Homo sapiens: one gene and its partner. The protein of the gene in region 1 interacts with the protein of each later gene in a biochemical or structural test. Each region holds a gene or a part of one and is shown on either strand. Other genes may lie near its edges.

Region 1 (8,248 bases):
AATAACAGGAAGACTAAGTGACACTGCACATAGCATATCTACCAGTGTCCTGCACATAGTGATAAATGTTGACAGTTGTTTTGGTATTAAATGAATATGGGTGTGGTACTGGTTGCTATGATATGGAAGACAAATAGAACAACAGGTCTGAATTAGAAGAAAAATAACAGGAGGGCTGTTTTTAGTGATCTTTCAAGTATGACTACAAATTGTCAAGGTCCTTCCCTGTGGGGTGCTTTGAGGAAATCCTCTTGTCCATAGCCACTCTTTGCTTATTAACAGACCCCTGTGCATAAGTGATCAACAGTGTCCTTCTGGGATTTATGTTTAAGGCCCTCTTTTCCTTGCCAACCAGGAATATTCCCCTGGCTCCTCACTCCAGATATCCTGATCACAAAGGAGTCCTATGAACATGGAAGAATTGACAACTGAAATGGGCTGGGAGAGAGAGCAGCTCCTGTACTGGAGTTACATAATGTGAGACAGACACTTAAAAAGTCCAGAGAACAGCCAGTCAGTCACAGCTGAGTCCCAGTTTGATGATTTGTAGGGTTTGGGATGAGAGCCAATGGCCAGTAAGAACAATTACTTACTGACCATTGACCCTCACTTAGCGGGGCATATTTTTCCCCTTATTCTAAGCCACAATGAAACTAGAGCATTCTAGCAGCTTCCATTGGACAGAATAAACAGGATAGGGTCTACTAACTACTCAGGACCTGGGAGGGGCCTGCAGTTTTTGTCCTCTAGTCCATGTTAGATCAGCCGTATTAAAAAATTCCTCTTCCCTTAGTCTCTCTCCACTGGTTCTGTTTTAAATGAGAGCATAATCACCTGAGCTTCCTAATAAGACAAAGTTCTACTGACGCTGGTAACCAGGTCAGCTTGTTGAGAACAGTCTTGGTAACAGTCTTGACAGCTAGCTAGTTGGTGGTTCTCTACTCAGCACTCATGCCTGTGGTCCCGGTCTTTTAGTTGTCTCAGAAAAGCAATTCATATGGAGGCCTTTATGTTGGTTGATGGCCCCTGCAGATATCTTCATCTTCAACATGGGCACCAAATCCAGTCTCATCTGCAACAGCTCTTTCTAGTTTTTTTCTACCCGTACCGTGGCAGGCCAGATCTCAATAACGCAGGCCTCCATAACAACTGTTTCAGCACTGAGTGGTTAAGTTAAATATTAAAAGCTGAAAGAGTGAGGGCCCTTATGCAAAGGCTAGAATGTAACAAAAGGCCACCAAGGGTTTTGCCCAGGCCTTTTCTGGGCCTTGAAGCATGACAAGATAACAAAGGAACCCATTTAGGATTAAACAAGTTTTATTGGGGGTCTGAAGGAACTTATTGAGGGGGTCTGAAGGCCTCCACAAACAAGTTTACTGGGGGTCTGAAGGAAGTCCCCAAACCTCCATGATTTAGCAGGAAACAAGATAAGGGTAATCACCCCAGCACCTGGACCCATTTAGATTAAGTAAATTTACTGAGGCTCCAGAGGAAGGTCTTCAGGGCTCAGATCTTATTTATAGATTTAAAAAAGTGAATCACTTATGTCTTTAGATGAATGTACACTCACATGTAGACATATAGCTTATAATGTAAATAAGCTCTGGAAAACTTTGTAGTTTTGAGTTGGTCTTGGGATCATTTCCAGGCTTTCTCCCCATACCTGGTTACAGAAATAAACTCCCTCCTTTCTCAGTTCATCTGCACCTCATTATTGGGCTGCGAGAATAAGCAGTCCAACCCTTGATTTGGTCTGGGAACAATACCACAATCCAGATGGGCTGTAACTTGCCACTTAAAAAAGCAGAGAGGCAGAAATCTATGTGACCTGGTCACATATAAGTCTCAGAAGGTGGGGCCGGGGAGAGAGGAAAGAGACCCCTCCTTACCCAAGACTGATAGAAAAGCATGCAAATGAAGGACCAAAAAAGTTTAATTATAAACAGTCTTACATCTTGTAGGAAAACGCAAGTGAGGCAACCACTGAAGGAACTTTATAAAAGCATTTGACTCCCTGTAATATTTGTAGCATTACCTGAGTATTAAAAGTAACAGATCAAGAAAACAAAGGTACTCTTAATACAGTAATATACAATCCAGTGCTGCCAATTCCATTTTTAGTTAATGAAAGCAAATTATACAAACAAAGTAAATAACTAAAAGAAAAACAAAAAAAGGAGGGGGGCTGGAGATACCAACAATACTAAATAGAAGTCGTTAACTCTAAAGGAGTTTAGAAAGGTAAGTTACATCCACAACAGGAAAGGATATAAAAATAGAGGAAAAATTTAATTCCGTGAGTCAACCCCGGTAACATTTCGGATTATTAACCAGATAAGTAAAAAGTGGTAGAGTGGGCTTGACTGAAATAGTTCATTTAGGATGAGAACTTTGTGTATAGTTGAGTCAAGTTTCACTAAAATTTCTGATCATTGGTATGTCAATCTCTTGATGAAAAATCAGTACCTGAATATGTCTTTTTGTTTTTTTAAGAGACAGGGTCTTGCTATGTTGCCCAGGCAGGATTTGAACTCCTGGGATCCTCCCACCTCAGCCTCCCGAGTACAATACCTGAATTTTAAATAGAGTTATTGTAAGTCTTATGAAATGAGATTTTGCTGCACTCTGACATAAGATAATAAAAGACAGAGCAGGAATTCATTATTATGAGCTGCTTGATCAGTTTTAAACCACTCCATTTGATGAAACAAGTGAGGTCCTTCCCTCCTGACCAGGCTGTGGAATGCTGTCTTCCCCAACCCCCACCCCCTGCAAAAGAGCAGAACAATAAGGCAATTGCTCATTTTACTTTGTTTTTATTTCAATGTAACATGCAGTAAAAAAAAAAAAAAAAAAAAAAAAAAATTAACAGGATTTATTAGCATTTACAATGCTTACAAAGAAAAAGACTTCTAAAAGCAAGTTAGTTCAGATTTAAGAAAAAGCTCTAAGTAAATACTTACAATAAATCTATTTCCATATGTTCAGTTTGGACCAAAATTTAAGATAGCATTTGGTAGATATTTATGTCTGCGGTCTATTTGCAGTATTTTTATATAACCTCTGATTCTTGGGATATCCAGCCCCCATTTTCCTAACACAGCAGGGAAGACATATACATGTGGCCACTTAAATTAAAGGAAAAAATGGAGTAGGGAGATCCCAGGCTGCAAAAATATATACAAGCATTTACCTTTTCCAGAACTAAACACTTCTTCCATAAAAATATTAAATAGCCAAGCCCTATAGAACTAGGGCCAGGGCTACTTCAAATATAACTATTCTGTATTTTAAAAATATAGGGCAGAAAGCCTTTTGGGTGATATTTATATATTTTCACACAATATTTCTAGGTCCCTAAATGAATCATGAAGCATTATATAGAACCAAAAAAATGTATTTTCTTACATTATCTCTTAATTTAATTTCATAAATCTCTAGTAAATATTGTAGGTAACTACATTTCAGTATGAGAATTCACCTCAACAGGAAGTCTTTATAGAGGGCTTAATCTTCATTAGCCATATATTACCAAGTTCAGACTTATATAATGAACGGGTAGTTGGCAGACATTCGCTCTGTAAGACAAAGCAATAGCGTTTTTTCTCCCTACCAACAAAAAGGCAGAGTCCCTACTTTTAACAACCAGGGCTTTTAGAAACCACACAGTATTTCCTGGGGTACATGAAATAAAAAAACCATAGGGCTGGGGAGAGCCTAGCCTCCCCATTTACACTGAGCTGCTTGATGAGGCAACCCTTTCACTCATGTAAGTCTCTGCTTTATGATGGCAGTATCTTACAGTAGACAAGTTTAAAAAAATGTTTTTATTGTTGTTCCAGGATGTAAAAGGAAGAACATTAGGGACAAAAAATTGTTTTTCTTTTTTCCATATGGAACAGGGTTCTGCTGCTTATTCTTGGCTTAATATTACTTGTTCATGCTATGCCTCTGAAATGTGGCAAAAGTCCCTGATACATGAGCTATGAGGCTGTCCTCAGGGTTCAGCTATGATAGAGACTCAGCTGGCTTAGGCTTCATCCACTGCCAATGAAGTCAAATTTATAACAGCCACCTTGACAGTCGAAGCTAGGCCAAGTTAAAATAATTAATTCCAGAGAACTTCAAAGTGCATTAATCAGTTAATAATGGAGCAATCTAAACTTAAATAGTCGTGAGAAAAAAAGGAAACCCTGTTAAAAATTTTAGGGGTGAAAATATTGCAGATGAGGGTTATCAATCCAGTTCATGACAATGTAAAGAATGGAAATGACTACTCCAACATATGTCAGAGAAATGATAACTTTGAAGACTTTTAATTCACAGAGAATATATTCCTGTGGTTACTGGATGTTATCTTCCTTTCTTTTTAGCCAGTACCACAGCTCTCCCTCTCAAATGAAAATCTGATGTCAAAAGCTGTTTCACTGACCTCTATTTGGACTAGAAAGCACTCTAGTCTTTCTAGTCTTAAACTCCTTAACAATAATTAAATATAACTGAAGTTGTTGGATTATGATAAAACTATAAAGCATCAATTATATAGCGGAACATATAAAAATCACCAGAGACATCTTTAGATGAATTCAATTAAATTAATTCTAATTCTAGGCTAAGTTTTTTTTCCTTTTATTTATTTATCCCCCACCACGCTGCCCAAAAAAAAGACAGGGTCTCCCTATGTTGCCCAGGCTGGTCTTTAACTCCTGGGCTAAAGGGATCCTCCTGCCTCGGCCTCCCAGAGTGCTAGGATTACAGGTATGAGCCACCATGCCCGGCCCTAGGTTAACTTCTTAAAACAATGAAGGAATCACAGTGTTAACATTGTTTGTAAAGTGTAGTATTTGTCAGGCAACTGAAACAATCAGACTTCCAAATGAAGTCATTTGCAGGCTGTGACCAACTTTTCCCTGAATTCAAATTGACAAAACTACTTTGTAGAGATGCAAGAGTCTTGCCTCACTTCCAGGAATGATGTATGGATTCATGCGCCAGAAAGGAAAAACAATAGTCAAGTCAGACTAAAATGAGAGGGAGAACACAAGCCCGAATTTTGCTCACATCCCCAGAAGCAGGAGTAAGCTTGCACTTTTAACAAATGCCTCTTACCAAGAGGCTTAATAGGAAAATCTTGTATATTGCAGTTACCAAAGGACTTCCCTGCATGTCTGCAGAATGTCTAAAAGAAAAAAACACTACTCCCAAGTGAGACTTTTGACACACATAAAATATTGTTGTTAAAGGAATAAACTAGTGGAATAAGACAAGGCAAATTTCATTGTTGTGTTAAAATCTCATGTTAAGCAAGGTTCTGACTAGTCATTTGCAGACCTGATTTCTGGAAACGCTGAGTAGAAATCACTGGGAGATAAATCTAAATGAGAACATTAATTTACTTACACTCAGATAACTCTCTAAAGAGCCATTGTCCAATTTTACAAGATGTGCAACAGGCAGAGAAGGACAAACATTGCAAATAAGTTCTTGCCCATTCATGGTGCAAGTTCTCAGAAGTTACTCTTGTCCAAATCCTTCTGTTTCTTCTATGGCAAACAACAGCTTTTCCTTCAGTTGCTCATAGCTCTTGTATGGTGGCAGGTCCAGGCGATTAAAACTAAAAGCAAGAATTGTTAGTTTGAGAAAAGGAAATATGCAAAGAATCAAATGAGTAGTGTAGTATACTACTTTATACACTACTATAGAAGCACAAAAATATACTACTGTGCTTCAAAGGATACCATCAAGAAAGTGAAATAACCCAAAAATGGGAAAAAATATTTGTAAATCATATATCTGATAAAGGACTGGTATCCAAAATATATAAAAAACTTAAAACTCAACAATATTTAAAAATGAACAAAGGATAGAGATTTCTCCAAAGACATACAAATGACCAATAAGCACATTAAAAAAATGCTCAACATCCTTTACCATGCAAATAAAAACCACAATGAGATACCACTTCACACCTGTTGGGATGGCTATTATTTAAAACACCAAAACAACAACAACAACAACCAAAAAAAAAAAAAAAAAAAAAAAAAACAGAAGAAAACAAGAGTTGAAAAGGATGTGAGGATGTGGAGAAATTGGAGCCCCTCTGCACTACAGGTAGGAATATAACGCAGTGTAGTCACTATGGAAAACAGTATGGCGAGATTCCCCCAAAAAATTAAAAATAGAATTACTACATGATCAAGGAATTCCACCTCTGGGTATATACCCAAAACAACTGAAAGCAGGGCCATGGACAGATATATCTATATTCTACCACAGTATACCTATGTTTATAGCAGCATAAACAGCCAAAAGGTGGAAATAATCTAAGTGTCCATGGACAGATGAATGTATAAACAAAATGTAGTATATCCAGACTATCAAATATTATTCAGCATTAAAAAGGAGGAAATGCTGACACATGCTACAACATGGATGAAAATTAAAGATATTATTCTAAGTGAAATAAGCCAGCCAGGAAAGGACAAATAAGGTACGATTCTACACTTACGAAGTACTAAAGAATCATAGAAACAGTAGTAGAATGATGTTTGCCAGGACCTGGGGAAAGGGAGTCATGGGGAGTCATTGTTTAAAGCAGCAGTCTCCAGCCTTTTTGGCACCAGGCAATGGTTTTGTGGAAGACAATTTTTCCATGGACAGGAGTGGAGAGGGGGATGGTTTCAGGATGAAACTGTTCCACCTCAGGTTAGATTCTCGTAAGGAATGCACAATCTAGATCCCTCACATGCACAGTTCACAATAGTTATTGCTCCTATGAGAATCTAATGCCTCTGCTGATCTGACAAGTGGTGGAGCTCAGCAGGTAATGCTCATTCACCCTCCACTTACCTCCTGCTGTGCAGCCCAGTTCCTAACAGGCTGGGGACCAGGAGTTGGGGACCCCTGCTTTAATGGGTACCATTTCAATTTTACAAGATGAAAAATGTTTTAGGTCTGGCATGATGGCCTGTAATTCCAGCACTTTGGGAGGTCAAAGCAGGAGTATTGCTTGAGCTCAAGAGGTCGAGACCAGCCTGAGCAACAAAGTAAGACTCTGTCTCTACAAAAAGTTTAGAAATTGGCCAGGTGTGGTAGCACATGCCTGTCGTCCCAGCTACTTGGGAGGCTAAGGTAGGAGGACAGTTTGAGCCCGGGAGGTGGAGGGTGCATGAGTGGAGATTGAGCTACAGCACTCCAGCCTGGGTGACAGACTGAGACATGTCTCAACAAAAGAAACAATTTTTGGAGATAGGTGATGGTGATGACTGCATAATGATATGAATGCACTTAATGCCACTGAACTGTACACACTTAAAAATGGTAAATTCTATGTTATGTATATTAAACCCAACAATTAATTTTAAAAAGGAATGAAATACTGTATATGCTAGACCATGGATGAACCTTGAAAACATGCTAAGTAAAAGAAGCTACACACAAAAGGTTGTATATTTTGGCTGGGGGCAGTGGCTCACGCCTGTAATCCCAGGACTTTGGGAGGCCAAAGTGGGTGGATCACGAGGTCAGGAGTTCAAGAACAGCCTGGCGAACATGGTGAAACCCCGTCTCTACTAAAAATACAAAAATTAGCCATGCGTGGTGGTGCATGCTGCCTATAGTCCCAGCTACTCGGGAGGCTGAGGCAGGAGAATCACTTGAACCCAGGAGGCAGAGGTTGCAATGAGCTGAGATCACGCCACTGCACTCCAGCCTGGGTGACAGAGAGAGACTGTCTCCAAAAAAAAAAAAGTTATATATTTATCGTATGATTCATTTTATATGAAATGTCCAGAACAGGAAAATTCATAGAGACAGAAAGTAGATTAGTGGTTACCAAGGGCTACACGGGGTAAAAAGGGAGTGACTGCTAATGGGTACATGGATTTTTGGGAGGGTGAAAAAATTCTGGAATTAGACAGTAATGATGCTTACATAACCTCATAAATATGCTAAAATCACTGAACAGGCCAGATGCGGCAGCTCACACCTGTAATCCCAACACTTTGGGAGGCCGAGGTGGGTGGATCACCTGAGATCAGGAGTTTGAGACCGGCCTGACCAACATGGCGAAACCCCATCTGTACTAAAAATACAAAAATTAGCTGGGCGTGGTCACGGGCGCCTGTAATCCCAGCTGCTTGGGAGGCTGAGGCAAGAGAATTGCTTGAACCTGGGAGGCGGAGGTTGCAGTGAGCTGAGATCAAACCACTGCACTCCAGCCTGGTCTACAAAGTGAGACCCTGTCTCA
Region 2 (9,247 bases), on another chromosome or scaffold:
GGTTGTTCTAAGCACCGCAAGGACTCTCCTAATCTTCCCACATTTTTACAGATTAAAAAAATCGAGATACAGAGCCAGTACTTCAGGTTTTAAGAAGAAAAGCCAGGACTCAAAGCAAATCTAATTCTAAAGCCCACGCCCTTAATTACTAAGCTAACTTAACTAAATTATGCTTCAGGAGTTAAAAAATCTCTACCTCCTTGGCAAGTTCAAGTTCTCATACTAAGAGGAAAAAAAAAAAAAAAGACACAAATAATACTGCATTGTTATCCCCTTCTGTAAAGTTGTATTAGCAGTCAGCTTTTATACTATCATTTATGAAAAGGATATTCCCAAAAACCAACTACTTATTATGACTAAACTGGTATGCAAAAAGCCTGGGTTCACCATTAACCAGCTCTGTTTCTCTGAGAAACAATCAACCTCCTTGGGCCTCAATTTCCTGATTTTATAGATGAGAAGTTTGGCCTAGATCTGTTTCAGCTCTGAAATTCAATACATTTTGGCACATTTTCTAAGACACTATATTTTTCTTAAGAAAGATTTTGAAAAGCATCTTTTGAAAACTTTCAAACTTAAAATACATAATATATACTCACATCTATTCTTTTACTCAAACATACTCAAAACTAATCGGTTATTAGAAGTCAGGAAAGTAACTAGAAAGGCAGGCAGATTCCCATGGTACTGGGAAGGGTCTGTTTCTTGATTTGGATGCCAGTCACACTTTATTACGTACACATTTTACTTTAATATGAAAAAGGGTGGTTTTCCTCCCCAAAAGGTAACCATGAAGAAAGTTAAGATCATGATCTAACTCTAAAACTATGTTTGAGTATGTAAGAGCTGTGCAACCTTTCTGTTCTAAATATGCAAATGTGCTTCTTGAATAATTGTATCAATAATCTCTTTGTTCCATAGTTCCAATTCATGTGCCTAAAGAAAAGTTCATTTACTTAAGAATCTCGGCCAGGCGCGGTGGCTCACGCCTGCAATCCCAGCACTTCGGGAGGCCAAGGCTGGCAGATCACCTGAGTCCCGGAGTTCGAGACCAGCCTGACTGACCACCATGGAGAAACCCGGTCTCTACTAAAAATACAAAATTAGCTGAGCGTGGTGGTGCATGCCTGTAATCCCAGCTTCTCGGGAGACTGAGGCAGGAGAATCGCTTGAACCCGGGAGGCAGAGGTTGCAATGAGCTGAGATTGTGCCACTGCACTCCAGCCTGGGCAACAAGAGCAAAACTGTCTCAGAAAAAAAAAATTGCAATATTACCAGAATTCCTTTGGGACTGTCTCCTGAAATTTGAGGTCAGTCTTAACTTTCCTCTAGAACTCAGCTCAAGAAGGCTGGGTGAGGTGGCTCATGCCTATAATCCCAGCACTTTGGGAGGCTGAGGCAGGAGGACTGCTTGAAGCCAGGAGTTCAAGACCAACCTGGGCAACACAATGAGACCCCATCTCTACAAAAAATAAAAATTAGCCAGGTGTGGTGGCACACACCTGTAGTCCCAGCTACTCGGGAGGCTGAGGTGGAAGGCCTGCTAGAACCCAGGAGGTCAAGGCTGCAATGAGCTATGATTGTGCCCCTGGGCGACAGAGTGAGACCCCATCTCAAAAAAAAAAAAAAGGCACCTAGCTCAAGAACCTCCCTCATACAGTCATACAGGCCAGGCACGACGGCTCATGCCTGTAATCCCAGCACTTTGAGAAGCCAAGGCAGGCGGATCACCTGAGGTCTGAAGTTCGAGACCAGCCTGGCTAGAAACCCCATCTCTACTAAAAATAGGAAAATTAGCTGGGTATGGTGGCATGCGCCTGTAATCCCAGCTACTGGGTCAAGCAGGAGAACTGCCTGACCTGGGAAGCAGAAGCTGCAGTGAGCCAAGATCATGTCACCGCACTCCAGCCTGGGTGAGAGAGTGAGATTCCATCTCAAACAAAACAAAACAAAAAAACTCCAGGTGGGGTGGCTCACACATGTAAGCCCAGCACTTTGGGAGGCCAAGACAGCCAGATCACCTGAGGTCAGGAGTGTGAGACCAGCCTGGTCAACATGGTGAAATCCAGTCTCTACTAAAAATACAAAAAAAATTAGCCGGGTGTGGTGGCGCATGCCTGTAATTCCAGCCATTCTGGAGGCTGAGGCCTGAGAATCACTTGAAGCCAGGAGGCGGAGGCTGCAGTGAGCCGAGATAAAGCCACTGCACTCCAGGCTGGGTGACAGAGACTCTGACTCAAAACAAAACAAAAACAAAAAAGAACCTCCCTCATTCAAATACCCTCAGAATCCCATAGCATTTACACTTTGCCCCTCCCATTTTTATCTATCCTTTGTCCTGTATCTCCAACCAATTAAGCCTTTTGGGGCTGTGGTCAACATGTTCGGTAACTGTTAATAATGTATTCACTGGGAAATAAGAGTATATAGTCTTGGCTGGGCATTGTGGCTCACACTTGTAATCTTATCACTTTGGGAGACCAGCCTGGCCAACATCATAAAACCCTGTCTCTACTAACAATATAAAAAATTGGCTGGGCGGTGGGGCGCGCCTGTAATCCCAGCTACTTGGTAGGCTGAGGCAGGAGAACCGCTTGACCTGGGAGGTGGTGGCTGCAGTGAGCTTGGATCATGCTACTGGACTCCAGCCAGGGTGACACAGTGAGATTCCATCTGGGAAAAAAAAAAAAAAAAAGTCCAGGCATGCCAGGCATGGTGGCTCACCATTTAAGCCAAGCACTTTGGGAGGCCCAGGCAGGCAGATCATCTGAGGCCGCGAGTTTAAGACCAGCCTGGCCAATACAATGAAACCCTGTCTCTACTAAAACTACAAAAATTAGCTGGGTATTGTGGCCGGACAGGGTGGTTCACACCTGTAATCCCAGCACTTTGGGAGGCCAAGGCAGGCAGATCACGAGGTCAGGAGATCGAGACCATCCTGACTAACACGGTGAAACCCCGTCTCTACTAAAAAAAAAATACAAAAAATTAGCTGGGAGTGGTCGTGGACGCCTGTAGTCCCAGCTACTCAGGAGGCTGAGGCAGGAGAATGGCATGAACCTGAGAGGCGGAGCTTGCAGTGAGCTGAGATAGCGCCACTGCACTCCAGCCTAGGTGACAGAGCGAGACTCCGTCTCAAAAAAGAAAATTAGCTGGGCATGGTGGCGCATGCCTGTAATCCCGGGATCCCAGCCATTCCAGAGGCTGAGGTATTGGTTGAACCTGGGAGGCGGAGGTTGCAGTGAGCTGAGATCGCGCCACTGCACTCCAGCCTGGGTGACAAAGCGAGACTCCGTCTCAAAAAAAAAAATTAGCTGGGCGTGGTGGCGCATGCCTGTAATCCCGGGATCCCAGCCATTCCAGAGGCTGAGGTATTGGTTGAACCTGGGAGGCGGAGGTTGCAGTGAGCTGAGATGGAGCCACTGCACTCCAGGCTGGGTGATAGAGCCGAGACTCTGTCACAAAAACAAAACAAAACAACAACAAAAAGGAATCTCTCTCATGCAGATACCCTTTAGAATCCCATAGCATTTACTCTTTGCCCCCACCATTTTTATCTATCCTTTGTCTGCCCTGTATCTCTAACCAGTTAAGCCTTTTGGGGCTATAGTCAATATTTTCAATAACTGTCAATAATGTATTCACGGGAAATAAGAGTATATAGTCTTGGCTGGGCACGGTGGCTCACGCCTGTAATCCCAGCACTTTGGGAGGCCAAGGCAGTTGGATCACTTGAGGTCAGGGGTTCGAGACCAGCCTGGCCAACATGGTAAAACCCTGTCTCTACTAACAATACAAAATATTAGCTGGGCGTGGTGGGGTGCGCCTGTAATACCAGCTACTCAGGAGGCTGAGGCACGAGAGTCGCTTGAACCCGGGAGGCAGAGGCTGTGGTGAGTTGAGATCGTGCCACCATACTCCAGCCTGGACAACAGAGCAAGACTCTGTCTCCCAAAAAAAAAAAAAAAAAAACCCAGGTGCAGTGGCTCATGCCTGCAATCCCAGCACTTTGGGAGGCCGAGGCGGCAGATCACAAGGTCAGGAGCTCGAGACCAGCCTGGCCAATACGGTAAAAACCCGTCTCTACTAAAAATACAAAAACAAAAACAAAAAAAAACAAAAAAAAACATTAGCCATGCATGCTGGCACATGCCTGTAATCCCAGCTACTCAGGAGGCTGAGACAGGAGAATTGCTTGAACCCGGGAGGCGGAGGTTGCGGTGAGCCGAGATGGCGCATTGCACTCCAGCCTGGGCGACAGAGGGAGACTCCGTCTAAAAAAAAAAAAAAAAAAAAAGGTGTATAGTCTTTAAGAAGGGGTGACAGGCCAAGCATGGTGGCTCACGTCTGTAATCCCAGCACTTCAGGTGGCCAAGGCCGGAGGATCACTTCAGTCCAGGAGTTCGAGACCAGCCTGGGCAACATGGTGAAACCCCGTCTCTACAAAAAATTACATAAATTAGCTGGGCATGGTGGCAGACGCCTTTAGTCCCTGCTACTTGGAAGGCTGAGGTAGGAGGATCATCTAAGCCTGGGGAGTTCAAGGCTGCAGTGAACTGTGATCACGCCACTGCATTCTAGCTTTGGTGACAGTGAGACTCTGTTTCAAAAATAAATAAATAAAAAGGGAAGAAGCTAGGGAGCCCAGATGTGTCTAAACCTACGCCCAATGGACAGAGCTCAAAGTCTTTGTAACACTGTATACAAGGAATTCACCCCAAACATATTACCTGCACAGACTTTGATTTTTTTTAACCCAATCTATAGGCTTTCCTTGCTCAACCCATTCCAGAAACCATAAGAAATACTATTTAAATATTACATAAAACTGTAACTTACATAACTTTCAAACACACTTTTGAAAAAATAAAATAAAAATAAAAACTTTAAAAACCACTTTTTTACTATTTGGAGACAGTGTGTTGCTCTGTCACCCAGGCTGGAGTGCAGTGGCACAATCACCGCTCACTGCAGCCTCGACCTCCCAGACTCAAACGATTCTCCTGCCTCAGCCTCCCCAAGTGCTGCAATTACCGATGTGAGCCACCACGCCTGCCTCTAGTCTTAGAAACAACTGTTCAAATTCTCGTTACATTCATTTTTGGTAGAAAATTTTACCTTTTTATTAAAATCAAAAGCGAGAAATTTTAAAAGAAAAACACTAAAAACGGGAAACAAACTTAAAAGTTTTAAAAATAAAACATTCAAAGCCAGTATATATTTTTTGTCTTTACTGTCTGTGTCCATTTATTCTTTAGATAAATTATCTTACACATCTGATACAGTTAAGTCTCAAAGTATTCTTTTTTTTTTTTTTTTTTTGAGATGGAGTCTCGCTCTGTCGCCAGGCTGCAGTGCAGTGGTGCCATCTCGCTCACTGCAACCTCCACCTCCCCGGTTCAAGCAATTCTCCTGCCTCAGCCTCCCAAGTAGCTGGGACTACAGGCACTCACCACCATGCCCGGCTAATTTTTGTATTTTTAGTAGAGACGGGGTTTCATCATGTTGGCCAGGATGGTCTCGATCTCCTGACCTCGTGATCCACCTGCCTAGGCCTCCCAAAGTGCTGGGATTACAGGCGTGAGCCACCACGCCTGGCTGTGTTCTTCTTATATAGTTAATAAATAGCCAGGAATCATTTTCTTTTTTCATTTATGAGACAGGGTCTCGCTGATGCCCAGGCTAAAGTGCGGTCACATGATCACAATTCACTGCAGCCTTGACCTCATGGGCTCAAGCATCCTCCAGCCTCGGCCTCCCGAGTAGCTGCCACTATAGGCACATACCACCAGGCCTGGCTGATTTTTTTTAAATGTTAGTAGTAACAAACTCTCACTATGTTGCCCAGGCTGGTCTTGAACTCCTGGCCTCAATCGAGTCTCAGCCTCCTAAAATGCTAGATTACAGGCATAAGCCACCCCACCTGGCCATAAACACTCTTTTAAAGAGTTTTGTCAGGCCAGCCTGGCCAACATGGTGAAACCCCCGTCTCTACTAAAAATAAAAACATTAACCGGGCATGGTAGTAGGCGCCTGTAATCCAAGCTACTCGGGAGGCTGAGGCAGAATGGCTTGCAACCAGGAGGTGGAGGTTGCAGTGAGCTGAGATCGTGCCACTGCACTCCAGCCTGGGTGACTGAGCAAGACTCTGTATCAAAAAAAAAAGTTTTGTCTACATAGTTCTCAACATATGGCAGTCTGGGGACATTTTTAGTTGATGCATCCAGCAAGAAGAGATAGTGGGGACATGCGCTGGGGCTCTGCAGTGCTACCTGCATATACTGGTAGAGGTCAGGGATGTTGCTAAACATCCCACAATGCACAGGAGAGCCACTCAACAAAGAACTATCTGCCCAAAATGTCAGTAGTGCCAAGGTTAAAAAATCCATGGTCTACAGAAATCAAAAGACTTACTTTTAGAGATTTACAACTACTTCTATTACAGAATAATCTAGATCAAGCTAGATCAAGTACATTAAAATTTTAAAGGAAAATAGACACAAAAATCTATTTAAATGATGAGGGAAAACTTAATGTACTATATAGTAATTTTCACGAAACCAATTTGTTTATGCCATAGATTTAAACACGCCCTATGAGACTAGAAAATGTTGGCCAGGTGCAGTAGCTCACTCCTGTAATCCCAGCAATTTGGGAAGTCGAGGCGGGTGGATCACCTGAGGTCGGGAGTTCAAGACCAGCCTGACCAACATGGAGAAACCTCGCCTCTACTTAAAATACAAAATTAGCCAGCCATGGTGGTGCATGCCTATAATCCCAGCTACTCAGGAGGCCGAGGCAGGAGAATTGCTTGAATCCAGGAGGCGGAGGTTGGGGTGAGCCAAGATCGCGCCATTGCACTCCAGCCTGGGCAACAAAAGCAAAACTCCGTCTCAAAAAAAAAAAAAAAAAAAAAAAAAAAAAAAAAAAAAAAAGAAAAGAAAAGAAAAGAAAAGAAAATGTTACCAAAGTGCAATTACAACATGAAAAACCAACAGGTGCCATATAGCATAAGACCAACAAGAGAGTGCACTGATTTAAGGGTGTTTTATTTCATTAAGTTTCAAATTTTAAAATATTTGGTATATTGAAATTCAAGTAAATCTGGCTGGGTGTGGTGGCTCATGCCTGTAACCCCAGCACTTTGGGAGGTTGAGGCAGGCGGATCACTTGAAGTTAGGAGTTCAAGACCAGCCTGGCCAACATGGTGAAACGTCGTCTCTACTAAAAATACAAAAATTAGCTGGGCGTGGTGGCGGGCACCTGTAATCCCAGCTACTCAGGAGGCTAAGGCGGCAGAATCTCTAGAACCTGGGAGGCAGAGGTTGTGGTGAGCTGAGATCGCACCACTGCACTCCAGTCTGGGCGAGACAGCGAGATTCCTTCTTAAAAGAAAAAAAAAAAAACATGAAAGAAAGAAATTCAAGTACATCTTAAAGTTAATTATAGGTAACACTTATTTCAATGAGTTTAAACTAGCAAATTAAACTGTGTTTAAATCCTTTAACCAGTAATACAAACCAGGCTCGATTTTTTAAATTAATTAAAAGCATGCCTATCCTTAGCAAGTCATGACAGCGTGGGACAATATGAACACAAGCAGACCTAGATCCAAATCCCAGGCTCTGTGATTGCAGACAAATAATTTAACTTCTCTAAATCTCTATTTTCTCATCTAGGAAATAGGACATCTAAAGAACTGTGCTTAAGAATTAGCAATAACGTAAAAACAAATGATACTAAGAACAACTAGCCATTCTACAAATGGCAGCTAGTTATTAACAGCAGCAATAACTAATAGTAAATAATAAAACTTATGAATAAAACATTGATTATGGGTTTATATCCTCACAATTAATAATTTACTTATGTAATCCTACTCATAAAATAACTAATTATAAAATGTACTTTACATCAATATTCCATGCCTAACAACTTTGGAATATTATTTAAAACTACTTAAAATTCACACTCATATTTAAAAACAAACATCTAAAACAAAGAAAATAAATATTAATTAATAAAAAGAAACATCTGACAAATTTCCAAACACTGTCTTAAGGGAAAGAGGCCAAATGATGCCTTTAAGTAAATCACATTTGTATGACACAAAATTCAAAAAATATCTATACCCCAGACACCCAACTCTCTACACAGAAAGCAATCAATTTTACCAATTTCTCATGAAACCTTTTACCCATACAGGCAAATACACACATGCCCTTCTTTTTGACACAAATGGCCTCTTCCACACTATTCTGCACCTTGCTTTTTCACATTTATCTTGTTGGCTGTATTTTAACACACTCTAAGAACGGCCACTTATAATCTCTCATAACCAGAATCCAGTAAGCGTCAGCTATCTTTACAAAGGCTCTTATAAGGCCACCCCAAAAAGTCCTTAAATCAACCAGTGTTCTTAGTAAACACAAGCATACAAACACATGAAATAAACTTCGGTAAAGTGCTGATTTACCAAAAAAGTGACATGATGAAACATTTATTTGATCAGCCATTCAAAAGACTGTATTTACACCCTTAAAAAGGAAACACATGGACTATACTACAAGTCTTCAATGAGTTGAAAATAACAATACACTTATAGAACTGGGGCTACTAAAATATCAAAAAATACTGGTGAAAATAAGCTATTTATTGGTTATATTTATTCCAAGATTAAATGATGTGACCCTTTCCTAAATGTTCTTTCCAACTTATTTTCCCAGAAGTTTCCTTCCATATTTATACAGGTACTGTTCTAAACAAAACAAAACAAAACAAACAAACAACAAAAACAACAAAAAACCTGTCTGTTTGCATTTCCTGTTTTCTTCTTCTGAAACACTTTTGATGCTTATCTGAAGTAAGGCTTCAACATCCCTTACGTATAAAGAGCAGTGTTTTTTTAATATGCATTACTAGAGAGCAATACAAGTATTTCTGGTAATCTTCAACTTAGTACTAAGAATACCACGGTGAAAAGTCAGCTCATAAAAAGCAAAGAGACCACATTAATTACCAGAGCAGTAACTTACTGTTTCTGTTACCGTAAGTAACAGAAAATAAAGCATTAAAAGTCTATTAAGTTTCAGGCTTGTACAACCTTATTAAACAAGAAATGTTTTCAGTTGTTGGCAACAACAACTGCTTTCATTAGGAGTATATATGTCAACTAACCTGGAATACATTTTCATATTAAATAAGTTAAAATTGCTGTTTCATTGTATCAGTACAGACACTTATGACT

What was found. The genes of interacting proteins can lie anywhere in the genome.
Region 2: the proteins of ITCH (region 1) and UBE2K form a complex in vitro, tested with the Homo sapiens proteins (2 studies listed by BioGRID).

The regions. Positions count from the first base shown.
Region 1 is NC_000020.11:34,505,061-34,513,308, reverse strand, and holds the end of ITCH (E3 ubiquitin-protein ligase Itchy homolog), read right to left. Parts: intron 5,615-8,248; coding exon 5,515-5,614; 3' UTR 1,536-5,514; downstream 1-1,535. UniProt on the Homo sapiens protein: Acts as an Acts as an E3 ubiquitin-protein ligase which accepts ubiquitin from an E2 ubiquitin-conjugating enzyme in the form of a thioester and then directly transfers the ubiquitin to targeted substrates.
Region 2 is NC_000004.12:39,699,920-39,709,166, reverse strand, and holds part of UBE2K (ubiquitin-conjugating enzyme E2 K), read right to left. Parts: intron 1-9,247. UniProt on the Homo sapiens protein: Accepts ubiquitin from the E1 complex and catalyzes its covalent attachment to other proteins. In vitro, in the presence or in the absence of BRCA1-BARD1 E3 ubiquitin-protein ligase complex, catalyzes the synthesis of 'Lys-48'-linked polyubiquitin chains.